Linked DNA regions of Homo sapiens. The protein of the gene in region 2 interacts with the protein of the main gene of each other region in a pairwise test. Each region holds a gene or a part of one and is shown on either strand. Other genes may lie near its edges.

What was found. Proteins that work in one complex are often made in the same cells at the same time.
Region 1: the proteins of EI24 (region 2) and BNIP2 interact in binary tests that used the Homo sapiens proteins (3 or more experiments, as listed by UniProt).
Region 3: the proteins of EI24 (region 2) and TMED8 interact in binary tests that used the Homo sapiens proteins (3 or more experiments, as listed by UniProt).

The regions. Positions count from the first base shown.
Region 1 is NC_000015.10:59,658,637-59,665,345, reverse strand, and holds the end of BNIP2 (BCL2/adenovirus E1B 19 kDa protein-interacting protein 2), read left to right. Parts: intron 1-1,225; coding exon 1,226-1,277; 3' UTR 1,278-6,200; downstream 6,201-6,709.
Region 2 is NC_000011.10:125,564,847-125,572,510, forward strand, and holds the start of EI24 (etoposide-induced protein 2.4 homolog), read left to right. Parts: upstream 1-4,630; 5' UTR 4,631-4,727; intron 4,728-5,257; exon of another isoform or gene 5,258-5,344; intron 5,345-5,443; exon of another isoform or gene 5,444-5,596; intron 5,597-7,611; 5' UTR 7,612-7,664. UniProt on the Homo sapiens protein: Acts as a negative growth regulator via p53-mediated apoptosis pathway. Regulates formation of degradative autolysosomes during autophagy.
Region 3 is NC_000014.9:77,334,520-77,339,119, reverse strand, and holds the end of TMED8 (protein TMED8), read left to right. Parts: 3' UTR 1-4,091; downstream 4,092-4,600.

The DNA.
Region 1 (6,709 bases), on a different chromosome or scaffold from region 2:
GCCACTGTGTCTAGCCAATAATTAATTTATATTAGATATTTTTGAATGTTAAATTCTTTTTTTTTATTTTATTTATTTTTTTAAGACGGAGTCTCACTCTGTCACCCAGTCTGGAGTGCAATGGCATGGTCTCAGCTCACTGCAAGCTCTGCCTCCTGGGTTCAAGCGGTTCTCCTACCTCAGCCTCCCAAGTAGCTGGGACTACAGACGCGTACCACCACACCTGGCTAATTTTTGTATTTTTAGTAGAGATGGGGTTTCACTGTGTTGGCCAGGCTGGTCTCGAACTCCTGACCTCGTGATCCACCCGCCTAGGCCTCCCAAAGTGCTGGGATTACAGGCGTGAGCCACGGCATCCGGCCTTGAATGTTAAATTCTTAAGGCTTCTTACTGTCAAAACAAATTTAAGGCATTCACAAACTGTGTACCAATAAGTTTTGGAGAATAATTATGGGTTCTATAAGGATGCATTTTTTATCACTGAATTTTAAAATATTGATTGATAATTGGTGGCCTTCATGGCATTTTCATATTTTAGTTAACAGAATCATTTTTGAGGGAGTTGTTTTTCCTGCCATTTTCGTACCACCTGGATCCCTACCACAGCCAAGTTACAGGTCAAGATTTTAATATGCCATGTAATTTGAACTTTTAAGAAAGTTTATGGCTGGGCACGGTGGCTCACGCCTGTAATCCCAGCACTTTGGGAGGCTGAGGCAGGCAGATCACGAGGTCAGGAGATCGAGACCATCCTGGCTAACATGGTGAAACCCCACCTCTACTAAAAATACGAAAAATTAGCCGGGCATGGTGGCGGGCGCCTGTAGTCCCAGCAACTCGGGAGGCTGAGGCAGGACAATGGTGTGAACCCAGGAGGCGGAGATTGCAGCGAGCTGAGATTGTGCCACTGCACTCCAGCCTGGGTGACAGAGCAAGACTCCGTCTCAAAAATAAGAAAAAAAAAAAGTTTATATGCATTTGTATGTAAAGTATTTTATAATCTTTAAAGAAACAACGGTCACATTTCTTGCCAGTGTCCTCCTGCCTTTAAAAATTCTCTTTTCTGGTTGGGGAAATGATGTTTGGTAACTGTTTTTACTATGTCTGCTTCTTTGCAAAGCTTTGTCTTTAACAGAGTAATATTCTATGCTAAAATAGTCATTATTTTTAGAAAGAAAATTGTTCAGTTGCTGGTTTCTTATTTTATATATTCTTCATTAAACAGAGTTGATCAAGAACTTAATGGAAAACAAGATGAACCGAAAAATGAACAGTAAGTTTGGCATCTAGTCCAAACAAGACTGAAGAATGTGCTGATGGAGCAGTGCTGTTTCTGCATTCATAATGCATTTATTGGCCCATATTTTTATGTAACCTGTTACAAAATAGACTTGACTTTTTCATAATGGACTTTTGTATTATACAAGGGACTGTTCACTGCTGTACTGGTTTGCAAATTTCTTGAATTTAGCTCTTTAATAGCTAACTGTATTATTATCGTTTTATATTTTATATTGCTAAATAGAGAACCACACTTTATATAAAGTAGTTTTTGCATTTGTTTATTGAATGATGCATCTTCTTCGGTGAAATATTTATATGCATAAATGGCAAAGGAAAGAAATAATATATATTTTTATGTCATTGAGCAATATTTTTTAATGTGTACCTGTCTTATGGAAGAAATATGCAGGTATATAAGACCACGATTTTCTAAAGTGCATATTAGAATTTTTGTTTTTGTAAATGGTTAAATACATTTCCTGGGTAACTTAGGAAATTAAGTTTTTCATAAGGCAACAGATGGTTAAACTGATTGTCATGAATACCCAAAGATCATGTATATAATCGAAGTGTATTAGTACCATCCCAAGGTTTTTTTCTCATTTAACATATTTGTTTCATAATTCAGCAAGTACAGATGCAAGCGCATTGCACACTTTTTCCTTTCTAAACTTAAAGACAAGTCAAAAAGCCATTCTTAGAACTAGAGGATTTAAGAGGGTAGGAATTAGGGTTTGTATATATGTATATATGGGACATTTTATCTTCTGGCCCAAAGTCAGAACTTTATAAAAATCTTGAGTTTGTTCACTAATGTGAAATAAGCTATGTGTCCAGGGTATTGCTCCCCTGAGTGTATATGAGTGCTGAGTAGTATTGCAGAGAATGTGATGAGTTATTCACTGTCACAACTTTTTCTATAGAAAACAGGGGCTGCTTTTTAAACTCTCACTATGGGCACTTTACCAAAATACTTCCATATCAATTATTTGAACTCGGTAGTTGTTTGACCTAGTTAGATGTGGTGTTTATTCAAGTTTGTATGAAATCATGTTTGACAATACTGTAAATTAGGTTAATTTTGTAAGTCTTAGCATCATCATATTGTGCTGTTTTGGATAACACGTTTGTTACAAGCATTTAAACTGTTTCATTTGGTAGTACCTTTACATTGAAATAAATTGTGTTTGTGCCTCCAAACAAAAAGTTTAATTACCGACAAAATTATTTCTAAAACAACAGATTGATCTGATATTGTGTCATATACTTGAAAGGCTCATACACAGCTGGTAAGCATAATACCTTCCAAATTTGAAGGTCATGGCTACTCTTCAACCCTTCCTGTAAGGTATTTTACAAAACAGTGGCCTAGAGTAGCAAAATTGAAGTGGATGTGAGCTAACCTTTCAAGATTTAGTCTATCCTAGATTGAACACACATGTGGCTGTGACCATTCTCATGTACTTACAAACCTTCTGTTACAAAAGGGAACTTTCCTATATTTTTTGTCCTCCTCAGTCCTAAACTTGGCATGCTAACTTAAAACCAGTTATAGGAGAGAGATGCTGGAGGATTCCCAGGATGAAACATTCCTCAGCAGCCTCCTGACTTAACTCAGATCCAGCAGCTCTTGGCAGATCCTGAACTAATGTCATTACAGTGAATTGAGCCAAAACGATTATTGCTTGCTCACATTTTAGGAACACTTGTTGTTGAAGAAGCAAACTAACAATAACAAGTTAGGCATTCCTTCTGAATTTACCATATAAGGATTATGTATAAACAATTATATTGAATTTGTCATTAGATTCTATATTTGTAGACGATTTAACGTAGTCTTTCATCTGTACATCTTTATCTTGCTCAAAATGGGCTGAGGTTTTTAATAGGTGGTTTTCTACCACATTAAGTACTTGGTTCTTCAGTTTAAAAAATATGAAGAATAACTTCAACTCTTTTTTGCATTATTTTGATTTTTGATTTTGCAGTCATTGCTCCTAACTGTAGATACATGTTGCAAAAGTGATGTTTTTCTGAATTTTTTTTAAAAGTAGAAGACTATTCTGTTAAACATTAAAATTCAGAGACAACAGTGATAACACCTGGGATATAATGAAAATGAGGTGCTGTGAATCAGTAAACTAAAGGGATACCTGCTTTAACCTGCACCTTAATGGAATCTGGTATAGAGATGTACCCACAATAAATGTTTTATAAGATTTAAGATCATAATAGTAGGTTAGAGGAAGAGCATTTATTAAGTCTGTTGTTTCTAATCTATAGCTAAGTTAACATTTCCCATATTATTCCATTTTAATTTCCCATTACTGACCAAGGTGAAAGTATATGTGATTGTACTTTTATCTTTCTGTTGGGATCATGGATCTAATTTAACTGGCTTAATTTGATGCTTCTGTCACTAGGCTCTAAGTGCCCCTTTTTTAGTCAGAAGTTTTTCATGTGAAATAATTTGATTCTGTGTTCTGCTTGATCATACTCCTAAGCAAGCACCAAGGGAAGACGTTCTATTCACCCCACAATTTAAGCTTAACAATCTTTAACTCAGAGGGAGATATGAAGAAATATGATTCTAAGTAGGGTCTAGCAGAGGCATTGGAAAGTGATAAAAGTAGGAAGTAAGAGAAAGCAAACCTTTATAAAGAGATAAAGACATAGTTGTTACCTAAGATGCCACTGTATGTGTGCCCTCTCTTTTTTTTTTTTTTTTTTTGGAGACAGAGACTCACTCTGTCACCCATTCTGGAGTGCAGTGGCGCAATCCTGGCTCACTGCAACCTCTGCCTCCCGGGTTCAAGCATTTCTCCTGCCTCAGCCTCCTGAGTAGCTGGGATTACAGGCACACGCCACAATGCCCGGCTAATTTTTGTATTTTTAGTAGAGACGGGGTTTCGCCATGCTAGGCTGGTCTCGAACTCCTGACCTCATGATCTGCCTGTCTCAGCCTCCCAAATGCTTGGATTACAGGCTTGAGCCACCACGCCCGGCCATGTGTGTCCTTTTAAGGGAAGTACCATATGTGACTGCTGATGGTAACATTTCTTGTATGCAGCAGGAAAACCTGCAGGCTATACGCAAGGTATGTGAATAAAGACTGTGGATTGAAGGGGGAAAAGTTGATAATACATACCCATGATAAGAATTCATATTTTCTCTTTCTTTGTCTCTTCATACAGAAGCAAGTTCGAGCAGAGAAGGTTAGCAGTTACAGCACTTAAAAGTTTAGGATTGAGGGTTTTTGGTTGGTTTTTTTGTTTTTTCATATTTCACTGTTGCTGAACATTGATTTAGTCTTCCAAAATGGACATCACTAGTAAGTGCACTGAATACTGAAATATGCTGATTGGCAAGCATATATCTGTAGCTAGAATTTTTTTAACCGTAATTCCAGAATTTAAAAAGGTAAGAGATCTGCTTTTTGATAGAGGCCTTTTAAAAAGACTATATAACATTTCTATTTGGCTGTTTATGTGAATGCTCAGGGAATTTGGACATGTGTTTTATACAGAAGTGGCTTTTTATATTTCTTCAAGTGATAAATTAGCATTAGGACATATCAGATAGAACAGGCCAGTTTCCTGATGAGATTGGTAGAGATGTTACGGTAGGTTCATCCTTCCTTTTTCCATGTTATATGTGGAGAAGTGTTAAACTTGCTCAAGCAAATGGGAGTAGGAGATAGGCTGAAAATAGAGATTGCTACACCATTCTATTTTGTTTTCATGCCTGTTTTTTCTCCAATCCTATATGGACATTTGAGAAATGGACCACAAATCTGAGAGGGATAGAGTAAAAAGAGGCATTAATGTATGTACTCACAAGTTAGACCTATTTTGCTGTTAAAATAGGTCTGGTCTTGTTATAGGTCATAGGAATTGTGTAGTTTGAGTTGCTGCGAGAAAGAGTCAAGAACTTAGACTTGAATGGGAAGGCCAACTGGTGAGGGAAGTGGGGTATTATCTACTCAAATGTTCTAAGCTAATACAAAAGAATTACCTGGCAAGCATCCCCCTCTGCCCTTCTTGAAATTCTGAATGAACTTAGAATCAGATCAATGGTGAGACCCAGTTATGTAACTTTCCTTTGAAGTTCTAAAGGATAATTGAAAATAAAGTAGTCTGGCATGTTTAACAGTAAGGAGTGACACTAAAATTTGAATATAACAGTATGTTGCAACTATTTATAATAGACCTATTTATGTTTTGAGAACTAAGTAAAATGCTATGAAAAATTCACATAAAGCACGTAAGCACCAAATGAAAATCATTTCGTGCTTTCAAATTAATGATACTAGGCTTGTAGGATGTCTTAGAATCATGTTTAACAAGAAGTTAAAATATTTGCATTTTGAAATTTTTATGCAGTTTGGCTAAGGAGGAACTTGGAAAATAACATTCATCAGCTTCTACACTGCACTTTTTGTATGTGGACTTTGTAAAGTTTAATGTCCGTTTAACAGTTGCTTGTTTATTTGTGTAAACCTAGCTAGTAAATATTGATGATGTTCAGGGCCACTGACTTGCACAGCCCTTGGAGCACTATTCACACAGAACACAATTCAGAGTTTGTTAAGACATTAACACACTTTGATATCTATTCCAAAAATACTTTTGTTACCACAGGTTCATTGCTGTCATTTAGACAAAATTAATGTACTGTGATATTTTCCTACTCTTAAGATGATGTTGCCCAGCCGAGTACTGTCAGAAATTCAGTTCTGATGTCTGTGTGTGCAAGATATTAATGTGGTCCCTGTAAGAAATACCAGAGTTGGTCATGATTTACTAAGGAGATGTAATATTTTCTTTGACCTGTTAGGAATATAACTTGTGTCTTGATTTGTTGCACATCATATTTTTTGCAACATTAATGAATTTAAATAAATTAATTGGAACGTTCGTCTTTGTCTTTTTATCACATTTTTCTTTCATTATGCTACTAAATTTTTGCTTTGAATTATCCTATAAACCTCTTAAATAATTTCAGACCTTTACACTTGTTTCCCTTTCTATAGTCTAAGTGCTTCTATTCTTTGGGGATTAGAGAGTTCAGCCTGCTTTATTTTAACATCAAAACAATAATGAAACTTTGTGTTTCATAGTTGAGATTTTTTTTTAATTAATGGGGAATCCAAGGATGAAACCATGAGTGGCTTAAAATGAAAACATGGCTTTTTTTTTTTTTTTTTTTTTTTGAGACAGTTTCGCTCTTGTTGCCCAGGCTGGAGTGCAATGGCGCCATCTTGGCTCACCGCAACCTCCGCCTCCCAGGTTCAAGCAATTCTCCTGCCTCCGCCTCCCGAGTAGCTGGGATTACAGGCATGCACCAACACGCCCAGCGAAATTTTTTTTGTATTTTAGTAGAGACGGGGTTTCTCCACGTTGAGGCTGGTCTCGAATTCCTGACC
Region 2 (7,664 bases):
AGTGGAAATTCTCTAGTCCGGTAGTTGTCATTGGGAAGTACTTATAAGAGTTTTTTGTTTTGTTTTGTTTTTTGCCATTATCCCCAATAAACACTCCACAAAGGGCTATGAAGGGGATGATTTGTCCCAACTAGTACTCTAGCTTCTACCTGATACTTTGTGGGCTCAGGTGATTTTACTATTTCCCATTAACATGTCCAACTAACACTTTTCAAAAGAGCAGCTTTACATGTCTTTGGTTTTATAGTACTAGATAGGGGAAGCATCCTCCAGCTAGATACAATACCCATTTTCATAAGACATTTAGGCAAAGAGATTACAACTACGTTACATAAACCCTGTTTAAACATCTTAAATTTCATAATTCTATTAACCTGTACATTTTTTGGTTCTACCCCCAGATGATTTTACCTTTCCTGGCAAAAAAAAGGGCTTGAGTTCCCAGCAGGGAGTTGCATCTGTAAGACCCATGAGGAATGGCAGTTTTTTTTTGTTTTTTTTTTTTTTGAGACAGAGTCTCGCTCTAGTGCCCAGGCTGGAGTGCAGTGGCACAATCTCAGCTCACTGCAACCTCCACCTCCCAGGTTCAAGTGATTCTCCTGCATCAGCCTCCTGAGTAGCTGGGACTACAGGTGTGCACAACCACACCAGGCTAATTTTTGTATTTTTAGAAGAGACAGGGTTTCACCATGTTGTTCAGGCTGGTCTCAAACTTCTGACCTCAGGTGATCCACCCGCCTCTGCCTCCCAAAGTACTGGGATTACAGGCATGAGCCACCATACTGGCCAACACTTTCATTATTTTCTTTCTCTCTCTCTTTTTTTCTTTTAGCAACCACAGGCAAAACAAAGAGGAGCACTACTTTAATAATGACAATACACAACCTAAATTTAAATGAGAAGACTTTTGTGATCCATAATGGAACACAAATATGGTAGAGGAAAGGGTGTGGAATCGGGCGTTAGACAAACCTGGTTGGAGTTTTTTTTTCTTAATAGGAAGGCATGGAATTTTTTTTTAAATCAGCTACAACAGCTACTCAGGAGGCTGAGGCAAGAGGATTGCTTAGGCCCAGGAGGTCAAGGCTTCAGTGAGCCATGATCATGCCACTGTACTCCAGCCTGAGTGTCAGAGTGAGACTCTATCTCAAAAACAAAAAAAAATAGTGATAATTTTTCATTACAACACTTAAATTGTTGTTGAAATAATAAATATAAAAGGCTTGGTATAGTAGATGCTTAATAAATCATAGTATCTCTCTCTCCTAGAAGATTCCAAGGCTGGAAGCTAGGAGATCTGGCCCCTAATGATGCAGGATTTTTCTTGGCCCCTTTGACAAACTCATGGAAGGGGGCGCCTTGTCTACCAGGCCCACCACAATCAACCACTTGCAGGAGGGAGCACATGAGCAAGCAAGTTCAAGATCCAGCCAGCCACTCTGGGCACTGGCACAGGAGCAAGCTCTGTGTGGGGCCTGTGGCCAGACCAGGCATGTTGCCTCAAGAGGAACACTGCAGTGCCCAGGTGAAAGTGCCCATGACCCTGAAGCCTCAGAGCGGGTGTTACAGTGCTCCTTTAGTTTCATCATCCACAAACAGCAGTGTGTTAGTAGCTCAGTTGGCCCTTTGCCTTGTCACGTGGGGCAGCTGCCTTCCACTGGTGGGGGCAAAGGACCAGTGTGACAGCCTTTCTGGGTACCTGTACTTGGTGGGTCCCAAGCTCTTGTCCAGTGTCCAAGAAGAATGAGGTCACATGCAGGATTGAAGGATGGCGGGCCAGGTGCGGTGGCTCACGCCAGTAATCTCAACACTTTGAGAGCCTGAGGTGGGTGGATCACCTGAGGTCAGGAGTTTGAGATCAGCCTGGCCAACATGGTGAAACCCCATCTCTACTAAAAATACAAAAACTTAGCTGGGCGTGGTGGCAGGTGCCTATAATCCCAGCTACTTAGGAGGCTGAGGCAGGAGAATTGCTTGAACCCAGGAGGCATAGGTTGCAGTGAGCTGAGATTGCACCATTGCACTCCAGCCTGGGTGACAGAGCAAGACTCTGTCTCAAAAAAAAAAACAAAGAAAAAAACAAAGAAGGATGTTGAGGGCAGAGAATTTTTTTTAGTGATGAAAACGAGTCTCAGCAGTGAGGGGAGCTGGAGAAGGGACAGGAAGGGCAGGTCGTCTTCCTCAAAGTCAGGCGGTCTCCCACTCTACTGACTAAGTCAGGGGTCCTTATAGGCACAGGATGGGGAGTATGTGCAGATTGGTTTGTGGCTATGCAAGAAAGGTTAAAGCAAAGGCACCACTCAAAGGTGGGCACAACAGTGTAGAAAACCAATCAGGAAAGGGTAGGTATATGTAAAATAGGTGAAGGGTGGGGATCAATCAGAGGAAAACATGCAAGACAGGAAGACAAGTTCTCAATCTGGTCTGAGGACTTAACTTGTAGCTTGGCTTTCGAGCTTTAAACTGTTTTTGGCTTGGAGGTGGGGTTTCAATGGGGACCCGCCACTAACTGCCTAGGCATTTGGCTGTCTCCTGTCGCTATCACTAGATCTAGTATTGTTATCATTTCACTAAATCATATATCCATACAGTTAAAAAACACCTTCATATATATACCATTTATTTCAGCAGCCTGTGTTAAAGAAACTAAGGTTTGGGCCAGGCGTGCTGGCTCACACCTGTAATCCCAGCACTTTGGGAGGCCAAGGCGGGTGGATCACGAGGTCAGAAGATCGAGACCATCCTGGCTAACATGGTGAAACCCCGTCTCTACTAAAAATACAAAAAATTAGCCGGGCGTGGTGGCGGGCACCTGTAGTCCCAGCTACTTGGGAGGCTGAGACAGGAGAATGGTGTGAACCCGGGAGGTGGAGCTTGCAGTGAGCCAAGATAGAGAGACACTGTCTCAAAAAAAAAAAAAAAAAAAAAAAGAAACTAAGGTTCACAGCTTAACTGGAGGTCATGTCTTCTCAAAGTGCTCTGCCACAAACTTCCTCATTTGTGAAATTTGGAAAATAATATCCTCTACTTGTCCACAAATAGCATCTAATCATACATAAGCATGTGAGAGCTCTTTAAAAATGCAAGGTATTAATTATTATTGGTTTTTATTTTAAATGTGGTTATACATGTTGAGATTTAAAAGATTTCCTCCCGGCCAGGCGCAGTGGCTCACGCCTGTAATCCCAGCACTTTGGGAGGCTGTAGGTGGGCGGACCACGAGGTCAGGAGATCGAGACCATCCTGGCTAACACGGTGAAACCCCGTCTCTACTAAAAATACAAAAAAATTAGCCATGCTTGGTGGCAGGTGCCTGTAGTCCCAGCTACTCAGGAGGCTGAGGCAGGAGAATGGCGTGAACCCAGGGGGCGGAGCTTGCAGTGAGCCGAGATCGCACCACTGCACTCCAGCCTGGGAGACAAAGACAGACTCAGTCTCAAAAAAAAAAAAAAAAAAAGATTTCCTCCCATGAAGTAAGCCAGAATAAACTCATACCTACTAAATTCTTTCTAAAATCTTTTCTAAATTGACACTCTTGAGAAAGAATAGAGCTTGGAGGAAGAGCTATTATTATAATTAATAGCACAATAATCAGTTTGTCATTAAACCACTTAGGTCTCTTTGTAACAAGATTTCTAAGCTTTAGTAGATGGATTCCTTATTCTATTCTATTTTATATTGTTTTGTTTTGTTTTATTTTATTTTATTTTTCGAGACAGTCTAGCTGTGTCACCCAGGCTGAAGTGCAGTAGTGCGATCTCGGCTCACCGCAACCTCTGCCTCCTGAATTGAAGTGATTCTCATTCCTTAGCCGACCAAGTAGCTGGGACCACAGGTGTGTGCCACCATGCCCAGCTAATTTTTTGTATTTTTAGTAGAGACGGGATTTCACCATCTTGGCCAGGGTGGCCTCAAGTGATCTGCCCGCCTCAGCTTCCCAAAGTGCTGAGGTTACACGCATGAGCCACCGTGCCCAGCCACTTATTTTATTTCATTTTTTAAATTTATTATTATTATTATTATTTTGAGACTGAGTCTTGCTCAGTCGCCCAGGCAGGAGTGCAGTGGTGTGATCTCGGCTCACTGCAACCTTCATCCCCTGAGTTCAAGTAATTCTCCTGCCTCAGCCTCCTGAGTAGCTGGGACCACAGGCAGGTACCACCACACCTGGCTAATTTTTGTTATTTTAGTAGAGATGGGGTTTCGCTATGTTGGCCAGGCTGGTCTTGAACTCCTGACCTCGTGATCTGCCTGCCTTGGCCTCCCAAAATGCTGGGATTAAAGGCATCCTGTTACTAATTTCACAGGATTTTAGAAACGCAAGCAGCGTTGTGGAGTCAATGGGGGAGGGCAAAGAACAGGAGGAGAGATCTGTGAGAACGGGATCGGCGAGGAGGCGACGGGGAGGAGGCGACGCGGAGGGGTGAGGGGTCCTCTCCGCCGCCAGGCGGAGTTGGGAGCCGGACGATCCCGCACGCAGCGCGAGGCGGGACCCCGGACTGACTACATTTCCCAGTCTCCGTCGCTCCGCGCGGCCCACCCCTTCGGCTCTGGGCCCCGCCTCGTGGTGCCGGCTGGTTCTTCGCGCTCGCCCGACTTCCCAGCGGCCCCGTGCGGCCCGGGCATGCCCAGTGCGGGCGCAGCGGCCCCGGCCCTGGAAGCGCCCCGGCGGAGCTGGCCTGCGGTGGGCTAGGGGCAGGGCCGGAGCCGCGGCGGCGGAGCTGTGGGTAGGTGCGGGCTCAGCCGAGCTAGGCCTCGGGGCCGCCGCGCCGCCCATTCTGAGTGGCAGGGACCGGGAGGGCAGGCAGGGCCCGAGCGTGGGTTGGTGGGGCTACCGGCGAGGACCCCTTATGGGAAGGGGCCGGAGGGAGCGGGACGGGGCCGGGCACATCCCCGGGCGAGGCTGCCCCAGGTGCGGCGCAGCTATCTTTAGCTCCCTGTGTGACCCGGAGCGTGCGTGATCCGCACCTCGCGTGATCCGTACCTCGTGCACAGTTGTGCCTAGGGAGACCAGTTTTCTGCCGAATTGCCTAGGAGCTGTGGGGAGATGGGCCTGAATGGACCCGTGGACTCAGAGGCAGCCCGTGGAGCCCCGTGGGAAGTGAGGATGTTTACCTTCCCTGTACCTGGAGTGGGCTACGACAGCTTCCTGTTTGCCGAGACTTGGGTTTAGTGACTTAGAAATAAAAGTGTGTCTCAGCAGATGCTTATTAGCTTCTAATGACTGTTGGGAATTTAATGGCATTTGTATTTCCAGGTTTGAGAGGTTATTTGTCCATGGGATGCTCGTGTTAAAACAAAAATCTTCATTGCAAAGCTTAAGTAAAAACAAGTCTCGACCGAGGTAACGTTAGAACACCGGGTTCTGAGGTTCACTGTAGCTGCCATTCATTTGCTGTCAGTCTGGGCAAGTCATTTAACTTCTGAGACTGGGTTCTCTCACCTGTTAAATGAGCCAGATGCATCTTCATCTGTCTAGCTCAGCTGTAGGATTCCCCCTGTGTCATTCAGTCTGTGTGTGTGTTCTCAAATTGTGGCAGGTTATTTTTCCCCATGCCTCAGCTATTTGTCAGACTGGGTAATTCACCAAATATTCCTGTAGGAAGGATGTTAGGATCTAAGTATAAAAGTGAAGTGATTTATCCTTCATAGGTCACTCTTAGGAGGTGTCCTGCCACTTGGTACATGCAGAAACCAGGTGTTAGCTGGCCAGGGATCAAATGACACAGCTGTTGTGGACTGAGACAGAATGTTTCAGGTTCCCTGTCAGTTCCCTGTGAGAAATCCAGGCCAAGTAATGGGCTTCCTTAAACCTCCAAGCTGGCTCACTTTGGTGGGGTTGTGTTTATATAGAATTTTAAGTTTTTTTCATGCTGTTGTGCCCTATTAGATGCAAGAAACCTATGAAGAAGTTTAGTACCCTTAATTTATAGATGAGCCAGTGGCAGGTTACGGGAGTGGATCTGTGAGTCTTTACAAACTAGTGTCGTGCATATCACTGAGCCTTTGCTAGTTATCTAGCTCAGCTGCCCTCACCTCAACCCTGAGAACATGTCTGTATGGCTGTACCTACGCGACTGGAACTCTGAGGTGTTTGTTTTCAGGAGGAAACAGTGGGAGTATTAACAGAAGTTTCTTACCCTAGAGACTTCTATCCGAAGTGAGCCTATCTGTGTAGGATTTGACCTAAGGAGCAGAGGGTATATACAATGTTGGGCAAATTGCCTTCCTACTGCCATATCCCCTGCTCTTCCAGTTCTGAATGGCATTAGTCCAGTTGGGTCAATGAGGAGCAGTTTGGTGAAGTGGTTAAAGGTCGGGGAAAGTGTGCTTATATTTTGAAATTTAAGGTTTGTACAAGCTGCTTGTGAAATTCTGTCTTTGTATTATGGTCATACCTCTTAAACTGAGAATACTGCAACTTGATTGAGTGAGTGTTGAGAACTTTAGAATATCAGGTTCTTAAAAAATGCCTGAAAGTGGGTTTTCTATTCATCTTAGAAGTCACCACAGATTAAATGAGAGAATAGTATATTAATTACAAGTATTTCTCACATGAACTCTCAAGTTCTTAATTTTTGAAACTAGATATCCCATTCACCTGAGAAATAAAATGGGAAAGCCTTACTGTTTTAAAGACTGTTTATACATATGAACTTTTTTGAGGCCTAGTTTAAAATCCACTATTTATTGCATGTTTATTAAAATTGTATCTGTATATATTTAAAGTTAGAAAACAGAAAAGACCAGCCGGGCGTGGTGGCTCATGCCTGTAATCCTAGCACTTTGGGAGGCTGAGATGGATGGATCACCTGAGATCAGGAGTTTGAGATCAGCCTGGCCAACATGGCGAAACCCCATCTCTACTAAAAATACACAAAATTAGCTGGGCGTGGTGGCGGGTTCCTGTAATCTCAGCTACTCGGGAGGCTGAGGCAAGAGAATCACTTGAACCTGGGAGGTGGAGGTTGCAGTGAGCCGAGCCCAGTGTTGCACTCCAGCCTGGGCAACAAGAGCGAGACTCTGTCTCAAAAAATAAAATAAAATAAAAAAGACCTATTTGGAGGTTTTGGTACGCAATTTCATGTCATACCTTAAACTTTACTGTGCCCGAGGGCTCTGTATGACTGAAGCATGTATTTAGTAATTTTTGTAAGAACTTTTATCTTGCTCTTGTATTTTCATTCAAGTATTTGAAGGTATCCAGCAAACATAAAAATTGCTTAAGAAGATATTGAAATGTAATTATCTTCCATCTCCAAACCCTCAAAAGTGCTTAGAATGTGTAGGAGGGATAGTTAGGGGCATTGAGGCTCAGAGGAGGTTACTGGTCAAGAGCACATTGTAAAAATGTAAAATGTAAAAATGAGAGGGTGTAAAATGTAAAACCCCTTGTAAAAATGAAAGGGTGGTGAGTGTTTTAGAAAAAAAATAGGGATTTTAGGTTTCAGCTGTACAGGAATAGCTTCACTTGATTCACTCTATTAGTGCTAGAATCTACTGCTATCTTACTAGAGCTACAAGTATGTGAGGTCATCATGTGGAAATGTGCATGAAGTAACTTATCTTTAAAATAAATATTTGCCTCCATTATGTTCCATCTGTTTCCAGATCCTTCATGATGAGAGATTTGGGGACACTTCTCTCTCCTGTGTGTAGTTGAT
Region 3 (4,600 bases), on a different chromosome or scaffold from region 2:
CCCACAGCCCAGCAAATTCTAAGAGACAGTCATTTCCTCAGCCCCTCCCAGTCCAAATTTATAGACCCAAACAATGAAATGAAAACCGTTTGCTTTGATCCTCACCCTGTTCTCTAGAGCACAAACAAATAGTAACAAACAATTGAAAGAAAGTGCTTCATAGTAGGAGAGAGATTGGAATTCTCTATAGTGACTGAGTTCTTAAATTTCTTTAGTTTTAGTTTTGCCACTTTGTTGAGAGATGGGCCTTTTAGAAAGGAAGACATATTTAAAGTATTGATTTCTTTTCCCCCAGTGTTTTATTGTGAAAAAATTTCAGCAAACAGCTTAAAAGAAATATAAATATATTGTAAACCAAAAAGTATCTGAGACAGGTCTCAATACATTTAGAGGTTTATTTTGCCAAGGTTCAGAGCCCATGATGGGGCCTCAGGAGGTTCTTAGAACATGTGCCCGAGGTAGTCGGGTTACAGTTTTATACATTTGAGGGAGACAGAAGGTCCAGGCAAAGCCATAAATCAATACATGTAAGGTATACACTGGTTTGGCCTGGAAAGGCAGGACATCTTGAAGATGGGGGTTTCCAGGTCAGAGGTAGATCAAAGAGTTCCTGACTGGCAGTTGGTTGAGAGAGTTAAACTTTACCTGAAAAGATGAAGTCAGCTTAAGTTAAAGTAAGGGAGGCTTGGCTTAAGTCATGTAGATGAAGCCTCCAGGTAGCAGGCTTCAGAGAGAACAGATGATGAATTTTTCTTTTTAGGCCTTAAAAGGTGTCAGACTCTCCAGAAAAGACCTAATAAGAGAAGGAGATTCTCTACAGAATGCAGTTTCCCCCACAAGAGACAGCTTTGTAGGGCCATTTCAAAATACGTCAAATAAATATATTGGGGGGTAAATTTCCTTTGGGGCCTGCTGTCATGTGATGCTATACCAGAGTCAGGTTGGGATTTGGTATTTTATTGCCACAAAGGGTCTGTTTGGTTAGTCTTAAGATCTCTGTTTTAATGTTAATGCTGGTCAGTTGTATTTAAATTCCAAAGGGAAGAGGGTAATATGAGGCACCCTGTAATCTGACCATAATATGAGGCACCCTGTCTTCCCATCATGGACTAGTTTTTCAGGTTCCTTTGAGATCCCCTGGGCCAAGACAGGGGTCCATTCAGCCGGTTGGGGGATTTAGAATTTATTTTTGGTTTGCTGTATATATATGTATACACACACTCCCCGCATAAATGTAAAAATTTTAAACTACCAATTCCTAGGCAAAGATGATTCTAACATTCTGTTCCTTTTGACAAGTGTCCAATTAGAGAATGCTGAGAATGTCCCCTGCATATCGGCTCTGTTGGAGAGCCCCTGATTTTTAGCAGACCTGTTTCATTCAACATGGGTTACCCAGGAGGTGGTCTTCATAAAAATGTTTCTTGGAGGCCAGGCGCCGTGGCCCACGCCTGTAATCCCAGCACTTTGGGAGGCCAAGGTGGGCAGACCACCTTAGGCCAGGAGTTCGAGACCAGCCTGGCCAACATAGTGAAACTCCGTCGCTACTAAAAATACAAAAAATTAGCTGGGCGTGGTGGCGGGCATCTGTAATCCCAGCTACTCTGGAGGCAGAAGCAGGGAGAATTTCTTGAGCCCAGGAGGCAGAGGTTGCAGCGAGCCGAGATCATGCCACTGCACTCCAGACTGGGCAACAGAGCAAGATTCCGTCTCAAAAAAAAAAAAATTGTTTCTTGGTCTCCATCTTTCAAGAAAATACATCTGTGCTGTATTTTCCCCTTCCCTCAGGCCATGATCTCTGCTGTTTTCCTTACTAACTGGCATGTCAGTACAAGAGTGATTGTGAAGCTGCTCCGGAAGGGCTTTATGCTAACCTCTGTTGCTTGATGACATGTCCTCAGGACTCTGATATTAAAACTCAATCCTTAGATAACAGGTAGCTTTATCATGGAAGTAGGTAGCAATTTGGAATTAGACCATTCTTAGTTATTTTTTTCTTAATGAATTGATACATGCACTTTAAAAAATATTTTTGTTATTTTGGGAAGAAAAACTCAGACTTTTAAAAAAGTGTATATTGTCCCATTATAATATGTATATGGAAGAGTGAAATCTGAACGCTGTCTTATATTAAGCAGTAGAATTAGGTATTATCATAAAAAGTCTTAATCTGTAGGGAATATGAGTTTATGTTTATGAGTCCTGCTCAGTCCCTCTTTGAGAGAATTAGTTGAAACCCAGACTCTAAAGTCTGCTTTTATATTTGTTTGTTAAGACCACTTATCTGCAGAAGGTTGCCTTTTAACCCCAGTGGTTCTAAGGTGTGGAATTGAGTGACCCTAATATTTACATAAGAGACTTGTTTTAGTGGAGCATAAGGGAGGGGCATAAGTTACACCGTTTTGTGCTGCTTGAGAACTGTCTTTTAAAATTGATCACAACGAGGGAAAACAAAATAAAATTAGGGGGCAAAGGGTAGGAGTATGGGGGGAGGGGAGAGCAAACCTATCGAATATATCTTAGAATTTTGCTCAGAAATCACTGCTGCCTCTCAAGTGTTGCATTGTCCCTGCCTAAACCAAGAAGGCTAAACAAAGCCCCTCCTGTTTGAATTCTTAAGGTAAGAAATTTCTAAGCTAAGAAAACACTATTGCCTAAAACCAATGATAGTGGAGCTCATTTACAAATAGGCATGCCTCACACACACAGTCCAAAGGCAAGACACTGGCTTTGAAATTAGGCTCATGATGTGATTCCTATTATATGTACCTGATTTTTTTAGGCCCCAGGTATGTGGACCAGAGTTAATGTCATGACTCTTCAAAGATATGATGAAAAGTTGCCCTAGAAATCTAGAGATGCATGTTTATTTAATTCCATAGTTTAAAAAAAAATTTAAGCAGGTAGTTGTGGCTTATCTGGGGGCAAAATAATATATGTGAAATTGCTTCCAGAGGACAAAGTATATTTTCTAAAGTCCTGAAATAGGATCATGAACCCTTCTGAAGTTTTGGTTTGAAATATTATAGTATATGATATTACCAAAGAGCCCTTAATTCAGAGTTTAAGGGGCTCTCTTCCTGAACTCTCTTCATCACTCAGGGTTGAATGTGTAATGTTCCTTGCTATTGATTGTTATTGTTGATTCTTAGGATCAGGCCAAGAATCATCTGGAAAACATTATCTTAATTCCGTCTCTCATATCCTAAACAGTACATTTTACTAAGAAATTCCATATGAAAAACTCCACTCATGTCTCCTGAGATTATCCTGTAAGTGAAGTAGCTTTCATTTAACCAAGCTAAATTATTTCCATTTAGCCATGTTAAAGAGAAGCCAAGTCTAGAGAAAGCAATCCTGTAACCCATGAATCTGGTGTACCCATTTTCCCTTAACGTAACGGGAAGTGTTTTGAAATTCCCAGAAGAGAGCTGTTTTGTAATCAAAGTGATGGATTATAAGAAAGCCAGACTTTGGAAAAGGATAATTGGAATAAAGGGAGGTGCTTGAAGATTTTCCAAACTACTTTATGTCATTTAGCTTCTATTTTCTGAAGGGCTTTCTTTGGTGCCATGTACTCAGATCAGTCAGTTGACTGAAAGATGATCATGTTTTCTTCGTAAAGATTTAAGCAATTGGCAACTACAAAGACATTATTTTCTTACTGTTCTATATCATGTACTGTTGCTGACATTACAAAAAGGGTCTGGAAGGGAAACCGTGTCACTGTTTTATCTTTTTTCTTTAAAATACAAAAGTATCCCAACTAATCATTTATTATGGTCAGCTTGTTTTACATGTCCCCTATCATGAGAAATGCTATCAACATCTGTGATTTCTAAGAGTCTTACCAAATTGTTACTTTAATTCTTGTGTCCTGCTGAGTGGTTTTTCTTTTAAAATACCATTTTTATCACCCTGTGGCACTGGGTGTGTTACTGCGATTACACTGATGATTCTGAGCTGTGCTTCTTCAAGTAGCTCAGTTCTTGCGTTTTATATTAGGTAACAGTTTTGTGATGCTTTTGTGCATTCTTTGTCATCTCTTCTGAGTTTTCGAATCTGTCATAAATAAACTTTTTCACTATGCACCTGGTAACATCTGAGTTATATTTTAATGAACCTGATTTACATTTTAAATTCTTTGTCTTTCATGTATCTTCCTTAAGAAAGGTATTCTATAAGCCCATATGAATTATTTCATAATCTATTAAGATTGTGAAAGTTAAGAAGAACTAAAAAGAAAAAAAATTGAGAATAAGATTAATAATAGATCTTTCATCTGCATTTAAATTCATGGCAGAGTATCATGACCTGGGAACTGGGAATGGAAAAACTGGGTTTATAGTGATGATTAATAAGTTCTGAGTTTTATGTCAGCATTTGGTCCCAGTGAGGCCTGTTTCCCCATGAAGATATTCTGTTCAAATTTGGAACCTCGACTTCGGATACCAGGCCAATCATTAACGTAATCTGGGTGATATGAATTCAGCCTATTTTCATTTACAAAAAGTGACACCATAATATATCTTTGCTGTCTTTTAAAACACTGCCTCTCCACATCCCTAGTGTCTGTTGCAGAATAAGGACTCACATCTGA